Homo sapiens: one gene and its partners. The protein of the gene in region 2 purifies or fractionates together with the protein of the main gene of each other region. This does not show direct contact. Each region holds a gene or a part of one and is shown on either strand. Other genes may lie near its edges. The genes, in order: MCM10, CKAP2 and MAP7D1.

What was found.
Region 1: the proteins of CKAP2 (region 2) and MCM10 purify together in Homo sapiens (affinity purification with mass spectrometry; one large-scale study listed by BioGRID and IntAct). This does not show direct contact.
Region 3: the proteins of CKAP2 (region 2) and MAP7D1 purify together in Homo sapiens (affinity purification with mass spectrometry; one large-scale study listed by BioGRID and IntAct). This does not show direct contact.

The regions. Positions count from the first base shown.
Region 1 is NC_000010.11:13,206,471-13,209,147, reverse strand, and holds part of MCM10 (protein MCM10 homolog), read right to left. Parts: intron 58-2,677; coding exon 15-57; intron 1-14. UniProt on the Homo sapiens protein: Acts as a replication initiation factor that brings together the MCM2-7 helicase and the DNA polymerase alpha/primase complex in order to initiate DNA replication. Additionally, plays a role in preventing DNA damage during replication.
Region 2 is NC_000013.11:52,458,418-52,462,068, reverse strand, and holds part of CKAP2 (cytoskeleton-associated protein 2), read right to left. Parts: intron 1,174-3,651; coding exon of another isoform or gene 1,171-1,173; coding exon 1,095-1,170; intron 1,012-1,094; coding exon 143-1,011; intron 1-142. UniProt on the Homo sapiens protein: Possesses microtubule stabilizing properties. Involved in regulating aneuploidy, cell cycling, and cell death in a p53/TP53-dependent manner.
Region 3 is NC_000001.11:36,176,656-36,180,306, reverse strand, and holds part of MAP7D1 (MAP7 domain-containing protein 1), read right to left. Parts: intron 3,611-3,651; coding exon 3,465-3,610; intron 2,435-3,464; coding exon 2,106-2,434; intron 1,889-2,105; coding exon 1,711-1,888; intron 1,623-1,710; coding exon 1,484-1,622; intron 1,387-1,483; coding exon 1,282-1,386; intron 1,046-1,281; coding exon 992-1,045; intron 796-991; coding exon of another isoform or gene 793-795; coding exon 750-792; intron 642-749; coding exon 551-641; intron 434-550; coding exon 240-433; intron 60-239; coding exon 49-59; 3' UTR 1-48. UniProt on the Homo sapiens protein: Microtubule-stabilizing protein involved in the control of cell motility and neurite outgrowth. Facilitate microtubule stabilization through the maintenance of acetylated stable microtubules.

The DNA of each region.
Region 1 (2,677 bases), on a different chromosome or scaffold from region 2:
CGCAAATGGCATACCTTTAGCATTCCGTCCCGTTCCCATTTGTAGAGGCCACAGTTACTGAAACAGAACAGATGGATTTACTCAGCAGGGTGGTGTAGGCCCACTCATGTAAAGACGACGGTGCTCACTGCACCTGGGGAGAGTAGGCCCCCATTCAAGGAGAAGCTGTTCAAGGTGACATTCGTATTGTATGCCAAATCTGAGGTTATGCTCAAATGCGACAAAAATAAACCTGCAATGACTTGGGAAGTGGTCTGTAGGTCCTTACAAAGCTAGAGGCTTCAGAGATGGAGCTTCAAATGATAATGATGGCACCACAGGGATCCACGCACTGCAGGTAATGAATGCACCCTTGGTTTTTACAAATGATGGTGGTTGGGATGAGACTCAGATTTAAGGAGCTGGCCCTCTGGTGCAGGATAATCTATGTTTGGCCCCTTCCTCCTCTTTTTTTTGGAGCAAAAAGGTTGAGCTAAGAAAGGAATAATCTTCTTTCTAGTCTGGATCATCCTTCTCCCTTTCTCTTTATAACCCAAAAGCCTTTACTCACTTTCTTTTCTTTTCCTTTTTTTTTTTTTTTTGGAGAGATGGGATTTTGCTATGTTGCCCACGCTGGCCTCAAACTCCTGGGCACAAGTGATCTGCCTGCCTCAGCCTCCCAAAGTGCTGGGATTACGGGCGTGAGCCACTGTGCCCAGCCTCTTTACTCTCTTTTTATTCAAAGGGCCCAGGGACTCTTGTTTTGTTTTTATTTTTTTTTAGAGACAGGGTTCACTCTGTGGCCCAGGCTGGAGTGCAGTAGTGCGATCACAGCTCACTGCAGCAGCCTTGATCTTCAGGGATCAAGTGATCCTCCTGCCTCAGCCTCTTGAGTAGCTGGGACCAAAGGTGTACACCACCATGCCCAGCTCATTTTTAAATTTCTGTAGAGATGGGGAGTCTCACTATGTTGCCCAGGCTGGTCTTGAACTCCTGGGCTCAAGTGTTCCATCTGCCTCAGCCTCCCAAACTGCTGGAATTACAGGCATGAGCCACCAAGTCCAGCCCTTCTTGCTCTAGTTTTTAAAATGGTGGGTGACTTCCACCCTGAGAAGGGATGTGAACACTATGGTGAAAACTTATTTCCTATGAAGTTTACTCTGGGAAAAAGAGAGAGAAAGAGAGAAGACATATAATAAAGCTAAGGAAGTATGTCTGCCTGCTTACTTGGATTTCAGAGGGTTGGGGTGGGGTGGGGATGCTCTGCCTGTCTCCCCTTCCCCTTACCTAGCTTAGAGTCTACTCGTTCTCATTAGTCTGTTCTCATGCTGCTAGTAAAGACATACCCAAGACTGGGTAATTTATAAAGGAAAGAAGTTTAATGGACTCAGTTCCACATGGCTGGGGAGGCCTCACAATCATGGTGGAAGACGAAGGAAGAGCAAAGGCATGTCTTACATGGCGGCAGGCAAGACAGTGTGTGCAGGGAACTCTCCTTTATAAAACCATCAGATCTCATGAGACTTATTTGTTTTCATGAGAACAGCCCGGGAAAGACCTGCCCCATGATTCAATTACCTCCCACTGAGTCCCTCTCTCAACTTGTGGGAATTATGGGAGCTACCATTCAAGATGAGATCTGGGTGGGGACACAGCCAAACCATATCACAATTTCTGCCCTGAAAGGTGGCACGCCAGTGGCCTTAGCCCTTACAACCTCCCAACCATCACCTTCCACCTCTAGAGACTGGTTCAGTATCAATGAAGAGAACTCTGGTAGCCTATATGTCGATCAATGATAAAATTGTGAGAAAAAAAAAATCACTATTCTAGTTAGGAGTCAGCAAACTACAACCCCAATCCAGCACATCACCAGTTTTTATAAATAAAGTTTTATTTGAACACAGCCGTGCCCAGTTGCCTGTGTATTATCTATGGTTGCTTTCAGGCTGCACCAGCAGAGCCGTGTGGTTGTGACAGATCATCTGGCCCACAAAGCCTAATATATTCACCACTGACATTTTACAGGCAATGTGTGCTGCCTTCTGTTCTAGATCAAGAACTAGCCAAGCATGGTGGCTCAGGCCTGCAATCCCAGCACTTTGGGCAGCTGAGCCCACTTGAGCCCAGGAGTTTGAAACCAGCCTGGACAACATAGTGAGACCTTGTCTCTATAAAAAAAAGTAAATTAAAAAAATTAGCTGGGTGTAGTGGTGCACACCTGTAGTCCCAGCTACTCAGGAGGCAGAAGCAGAAGGATCGCTTGAGCCCATGAGTTCAAGGCTGCAATGGGCTATGATCATGGCACTGCACTCCTGCCTGGATGACAGAGTGAGACCCTGTCTCAAAAAAAGAAGGAAAAAAAAAAAAGCAACTGACAAAAAGTCCAGAAAAAACATGGTTCTTACAATCACAGTGCCATCTGGAGGCTGAAAGGCATCATGCCCTTCCATTTGTGCCCTGTACTTAATAAACAGAATTTTTTTTAATTTTTCTAACGTTTTCCATAAGCTCTTGCTATAATGACATTTTTAGTCATCTAGTTTGGAAAAAAGTCAAGTATCAATATATAAATAACTACTTAAAAATTATAATCTAGATTGTGAAAAATTGGCAAGCCAGCTCCTGGTAAAGTGATGAACTAGCCCGGCTTCCTGGCTCCCTCCCTCAGATCTCTGGATCGACCCTGGAGAATCTG
Region 2 (3,651 bases):
TTCCACAATATAAATTTGCCTGCATATGACAGAAGAGAAACCATGAAAGAAAATTCTAATGCAGTCAAGGAAATTATAATCCAAATCTACAAACAGTACTTTATTGAAAACTAATGTAATAAAGAAAATTATATCTACTTACTTTCTCTCTTCCGAGGTTTCTTTGGGCTGAGCTGATCTACTATCAACAATTGCTTTTCCTGCAGTATGTCTTCGCTGGTCAACGGGCTCTGACTTTTCCATCAGTTTATCATTAGACAATGAAGCAGGCCTGGCTATAACTTCAGATGCTATGGATCTTGATAGAGTCTTATTTCTTATTATACCTTGAGAAGAACTGGTTTTGACACTAGATAAAGCTGTTTTTGATTGTAATAGTTCTTTTTCATGAGGCCCTTTCCGGATTGTAACATTGGCAGAAGTTCTACTGATGCCTTGTTTCACAGTGTCCCGGGTATTACTGTGATGACTTCTAATAGGAGGTCGCACAAGTTGTGTGTTCTGAGATGTAGTGCTCACAAATTTAGTAGTGGCAGTCATATTGGAGGATCTATTACTTTTCACTGTTACACTGCTGGTGTTTACAGGCTGAGGTTTTGTGGCTTTAGGTATAGTGGCTGAAAGTTTCTTTGTTGCTGCAGAACTCTCATCTTTGACTTGTAGAGGTTTTCTAAATGAATTAATCTTAGACTGAACAATCTGGCCACGATAAGATCCAAGCACAGGTTTCTTGGGCATGTTAGCATCTTGCTTTTGTTTTTCTGTAGTCATTTGTTTCTTTTTACTATTGTTTTTAAGGTGAAATGCCTGGCTTAATGTCATATGTTGACTTTGGGGATCATCTTCAGTTAGTAACAAATGCGGAGTTTGATTACTATCCTTAGGTTTATGTGTGTCAATTACTACAGTTGAATTGGTTAGTTCATTTGAAGGTTTTAAAGGAATACAATGTTTCCCCACCACTGTATTATTTTTGCTCTCTGCAGGTCTCTTCATGTTTTCTTTATCAGCCTGAAAGAATTATTTAAGAAAAGTGTTTAGGAAAGGCAAAATGGAAAAGGGGACAGTTTAAGAGTGCTATGTCCACATCTTACCATTTTTGTTTTAAGTTTCAGCACTTTAGTCCCTTCTTGAACTTGGTCCTCAGATGTCACAACTCTCTGATCTCTACTACTTAAAAACAAACAAACAAAATGATCAATCAATCCTGTACCAAGGAGGCTTCCTTTTGGGGAGGAAGAAGAGGGCAATGTTAACAATTAACTGACTTACTAATTTTAAATTTAAAAAAGACCTGAGTTGAAATTTGTCCTAAGCGGCCAGGCGCGGTGGCTCATGCCTGTAATCCCAGCACTTTGGGAGGCCGAGGTGGGCAGATCACGAGGTCAGGAGATCGAGACCATCCTGACTAACACAGTGAAACCCCGTCTCTACTAAAAATACAAAAAATTAGCCGGGCATGGTGGCGGGCGCTTGTAGTCCTGTAGTCCCAGCTACTAGGGAGGCTGAGGAAGGAGAATGGCATGAACCCGGGAGGCGGAGTTCGCAGTGAGCCAAGATCGAGCCACTGCACTCCAGCCTGGGTGACAGAGAGAGACTCTGTCTCAAAAAAAAATAGTGTAAACAAATGGCTGAGGAATTTAAAGATATTTTCTAAAAGTCCTAACACTCTCTGCCCATAGAATTTGTAAATACTTAATAATCTTATTTCAAATCATTCTCAAGTCATTCAAACAAGTCTTCAAATAACCTTTAGTAAGTAATACCTCCTTGGGTTAGTTTTAAGTACTTAGTAACAGATGTACTACATTGAAAATACTTTTATTAAAGAGCCCTCCCAGAAGTGATCCAAAAATTACCATATGCCATTCACAGCTTAATTTATATTAGGATACATTAAGAATATGCACTGCTGGTTGTGGTGGCTCATGCCTGTAATAGCAGCACTTTGGGAGGCCGAGGTGGGGGGATTACTTGAGCTCAGGAGTTCGAGAGCAGCCTGGGCAACACGGCAAAACCCCATCTCTACAAAAAAATAAAAAATTAGTTGGGTGTGGTGGTGGGTGCCATAGTCCCAGCTACTTGGGAGGCTGGGGTGGAGGACTGCTTGAGCCTGGGAGTTGAGGCAGTGGGCCAAGATCCCGTCACTGCACTAGAGGCTGAGTGACACAGAATGAGATCATCTCTCAAAAAAAAGAACGTTAGTTTCTAGGCGGTATTGCAAAGAAAATCCCTCCTCAAGAAACTGACTTAACTTATTTTTACAGCTATAAACTGGCTAAGGCAGACTGTGAGCATCTCTTAGCAAGTGATTTTAACAATTTTGTGTACTATAACGATAGGAAAAAATACGGTCAATTAGACATGCCATTGATTTTAAGACAGATCCTAAGTTCAGAGATCACATTAAAATGCGTGATCTCTCATTCTCTGAAAAAAAAAATGAGGCCAGGAACAGTGGGTCACACCTGTAATCCTAGCACTCTGGGTAGAGAAGGTGGGCAGATCACCTCAGGTCAGGAGTTTGAGACCAGCCTGGCCAACACGGCGAAACCCTGTCTCTACTAAAATCAAAAATATTGGCCAGGCATGGTGGCAAATGCTTGTAATCCCAGCTACCCTGGAGGCTGAGGCAGGAGAATCGCTTGAACCCACGAGGCAGAGGTTGCAGTGAGCTGAGATCGCGCCACTGCACTATAGCCTAGGCGACAGAGCAAGGCTCCGTCTCAAAAAAACAAAACAAAACAAAATATATATATATATATTTTACATTTGACATAATTTAGTAGTTAATAATTTTGCTTACATTGCCTTTCATATCTATTTGTTCTGTCAGCTTGGAGAAGGAACAGAACTTTGACACAACCTGTACTATACATTTTGAACAATGGTGAAGGAAGATCAAAATGTGCCACTTAACAGGGTATCTTAGTAGCTAACTGCCAGCTAACAAAACAAAACTCAGGATGACAAGAAGAACCCATCTTACTCACCTGTCCAGTGGGGAGACTTAATCCTATTCTGTCTTATTATAAAACTGCCCTCAGAAGGGTTATCGGAAATGAGTCTTAGGATATCTATACTTTAGAGATTGTAAAATATAACTGTTTAATTCTGAAAAGCTGCAACACAGGTTGGTTGTCTTATTTAATGATTCACTGCTGAGGTGATAACATTTAAATTGACATCTGTTTTCCTTTTTTTTTTTTTTGAGACAAAGTCTCGCTCTTGTCACCCAGGCTGGAGTGCGATGGCCTGATCTTGGCTCACTGCAACCTCCGCCTCCCAGGTTCAAGCGATTCTTCTGCCTCGGCCCTCCCCGGAATTACAGGCGCCTGACACCACACCCGGCTAATTTTTATATTTTTAGTAGAGACGGGGTTTCACCATGTTGGCCAGGCTGGTCTAGAACTCTTGACCTCAAGTGATACACCCGCCTCAGCCTCCCAAAGTGCTGGGATTACAGGCATGAGCCACTGCACCCAGCCAACATCTGTTTTCTGAAAGGAATAAATGTAGTACTTAAGCCACATGAAGCGTTTTAGAATTTTCTTTTCTTCCTATTAAGAGTATTATAAACCCCTGACCTTGTTGGATTCTTTATTTAAATAAGTGGTTGAGAGTCACTGTCTGAATCCATATTATCTCTAC
Region 3 (3,651 bases), on a different chromosome or scaffold from region 2:
GATGCAGAGGAGCCCTCACAACTGTGCCCGGATCCAAGGCAAACCCTCTTAAAGGACTTCTGGGGAAAAACAGGAAGGGAAACAGTCAGGGCAAACAGCACTCAAGCCCAGATAGCTGGGGGTCTTCAGGGTGGAGCAGGAGAGGGTGCCTGGCAGAGCCAGAAGAGAAGGCAGGGCTGAGGAGTACAGGGAAGGCTGCTGGGAGGAATGGAGCTGGGTCCAGGAATCAGGAGATCTACCTGTGACCTGCGGGGACTGCACCACAGCTTTCTTGAGGAAGGCTTCTGCCTCTGCAAAGGGCAGGAGTGTCTCTGGTGTTCGGCTCAGACTCTTGTCCCCAGAGGGTCCGTTGGTGGAGAAGCCATTCTCCTGGTGTGCTGGGAGAGGCTGCAGGCCATTCACCAGGGACGCTGGCAACTCCTTGCTTGGGAGACTGTGGATGCAGAGGCCAAGGCTCAGCACCTCACCTCCCAGGAAAGCCCAGGCCACCCCGCAGCTCCAGCTGCAGTCTGCCTCCCTGCTCAGGGACCCTGGGATTGGAAGCTGGTACCTCCACTGAGGCTCCTGTGGGATGGGCTCCTCTTTCTGCACAGCCTCCTTCTGCAGCCCTGGGGACCGAGCCTCCACAGCTTTCACAGGCTCTGTCACAGGGAAAGAGGGGCCATCAGCCAGGGGCTGGCAAGAGAGGTGAGGATGGAGGAGGAGGAGGATGGCAAAGGGAAGGGAGGCGAGAGGAATGGGGGCTTTACCTGGGCTGGAACCGTTGGCGTTGGCCTCCTTGCTGTCCTGCTTCTGCTTTGAAGAGGAAGAGCAGTCAGGCTCAAGGGACAGCCGGCCCCAGCCACTTCGGACTGAGTTCGGCCCTCCCCTTGCCCGGGCCGCAGCGGCCTCCCTGACAGCCTCGCTCTCCGTGGCCATGGATGCCTTTCCGCAGCCTCCTTTTCACACCCTGCCCCCCACGCCCAGCACTGCCCTTCGGGGGAATTCTGACCTTGGTTTCAGAAACTTCTGACTTCCGAGTCCTCTTCATGATCTCCTCCAGACGCTGTTTGGAGGCCGCAGATCAGTTAGGCTCGAGCCCCGCCCCTAATCCTAAACCTCCCACCAGCCAGACCCGGCCTCGGAGTCTTAGGGCCTCCCAGCTCATAGCAGCCCTCTCCAGGACAGGAACTGGAATTTGCCCCAGCGCTTTCCCGTCCTGTCCGCTCTAAGCCCAGGCCCCGCCCACCTGGCCCGCCCTGCCCAGGCCCCGCCCACAAATCCCCGCCCAGGTCCGCACACCTTTCTGCGCTCTTGCCGCTCTTGCTCCTGCTGCTGGAAGTGCTTTTCCCGCTCCAGACGCTGCCGCTCCGCCTCTTCCCGCGACCGAGCTTCGGCCTCCTCTTTCTGCCAAAGACCCCCATGAGCGTGGGGCACTTGACTCCAGCCTTCCCTCCCGGCCCGCGGCGCCCGCGCCCAGCCGCTTCCCGCCCGCCGGGGGCACCTGCTTCTGCAGCCGCTCCTGCTCCTCCTGCTCGGCCTGCGCCTTCTCTCGTGCCTCCTGCTCCTCCCGCCTCCGGGCCTCCGCCTCCCGCTCCGCCCGGGCCTCGGCCTCCCGTGCCAGCTGCTCCTCTCGCATTCGCCTGGGGGACGGAGCAAACGGCTCAGGCTCGGCCTCTGCTTCTTCTCCAGCGCCCACGAGGGCCCCCTCAGTCCCCGAGGCGCACTCACTTGTCCCTTTCTGCCTGCAGCCTCCGCTCCTGCTCCTCGCGCTCCCGCTGCTCCCGGGCCTGGCGCCGCTTCTCAGCCAAGAGCCGAGTGGCTTCTTCTCGGTCTGTGGTGCCGGCCATTGGTTTGCTAGGGGTCACCGGGGGAGCAGGGGCTGGGGGTGAGGTCAAGACAGCAGCGTCTGGAGGGGGATCCGGGATCAGGCGTCAGCACACCCACGCAGACACCGCCGTCATCTCCCAGCGGCCTGTGTTCTGGGCCTGGGACTGCTGAGGGCAGGAGTCTCCTCTTTCCATGTCCCACTCCCAGTCCTCAGGCATCTCTGGCGGCCCACACCCCCACACAGGAGAAGCTGGCTTCTCTCGCTCGGCCCACCCCTCCCCTCTCTTCATTCCTACCTGTAGGGGTCTCCGCGGGGGGCTGCTCCTTCTGGGGCGGGGCTGGGGTGGGCGAGGGCGCCGGCGAAGGTGCCGGTGAGGCTGGGGCTGCTGACTCCTTCTCGTTACTGGCCCTGCGCTTGCTCTGGCTCTTGTCCTCGGGCCCTGCGGCGCTGGGGCTCTCCTTTGCCTCCTCCTTCCTCCGAACCCGCCCCTTGGGGGATGCAGTGGTGCCTCGGGGGGACGGTGGCTTTGGAGGCAGAGTGTGGCCTGGCCCTGGGCTGGGGCAGGGGGAGGCAGGCCTGTGCCAGGATGTGGAGGGAGAGGATGGCCTGGCCTTGGATTTGGGGCTAAGAGAAAAGGGAAAAGGGAAGGGTTAGGAGACACACACACCCACACGCTGAGAACTTGTTCCTTCCTCTGGGAGGTGCCCCCTCCCCCAGGCTACATCAGCGCCGCCCCCCGCCCCCTTGCTCTCACAGAAACACACCATTCCCTTTTAGAGCATACACCCCAGTTTGTAATGACATGTTTCTGTGGGATTCTTTGATTATTGTATGTCCCCCGCCAATAGCCTGTAAGCTTAATAAGAGAAAAAACCATGCTTGGGTTAGCTCAGCAACGTGTCCTCAGCACCCTGAGTGCTACCTGACAGGTCCATTCATTCAGCAGGTTTTGTTGTTGTTGTTGTTGTTGTTTTTAAGACAGAATCTGGCTGACCCCCAGGCTGGAGTGCAGTGGCATCATCATACATAGCTCACTACAGCCTCGACCTCCTGGGCTCAAGCAATCCTCCCCTTGGCCTCCCAAAGTGCTGGGATTACGGGCGTGAGGCACTACCCTGGCCCTTCAGTAGGTATTCACTGAGTGGTTACCAGGTGCCAGGCACTATTTTAGGTGTTGGGGTACTTCAGTAACCAAAACACTTAAAAAAACAAAAACAAAAACGAACAAAAAGAAAAATGGAGGCTGGGCGGGGTGGCTTACACTCACACATGTAATCCCAGCACTTTGGGAGGCCAAGGCGGGTGGATCACCTAAGCTCAAGAGTTCAAGATCAGCCTGGACAACGTAGCGAAACCCCCACTCTACCAAAAATACAAAAAATTAGCCGAGCGTGGTGGCGCGCCTGTAGCCCCAGCCACTTGGAAGGCTGAGGTGGGAGGATAGCCTGAGCCTGGGAGGTCAAGGCTGCAGTGAGCCGAGATTGTGCCACTGCACTCCAGCCTGGGTGACAGAGGGAGATCCTGTCTCAAACAAAACAGAGAGAATCTGCCCTCAGGGAAGTTGCATTCTAGAGGTGGTTGCCCAACAAATATTTGTGGGTGATGAATAAATGACCCGGTGAGGGGCAGGGTCCCTCGCACCGCCCGCGCCCACCTGAGCTCAGAGGCGGTGCTGGCAGAGAGGCGGGCACGTGGGGAGGCGGGCAGCGACTGGCGCTTCTTGAGGCTGCGCTCCCGGGCTAGGGCACTCTTCTCCTTCTCGTTTTCCCGCTCCTTGTCCTTCTTCTCCTTTTTCTGCACCTGGCAGGGAAGGAGGAACGGAAGAGGAGAGTAGAGGTCAG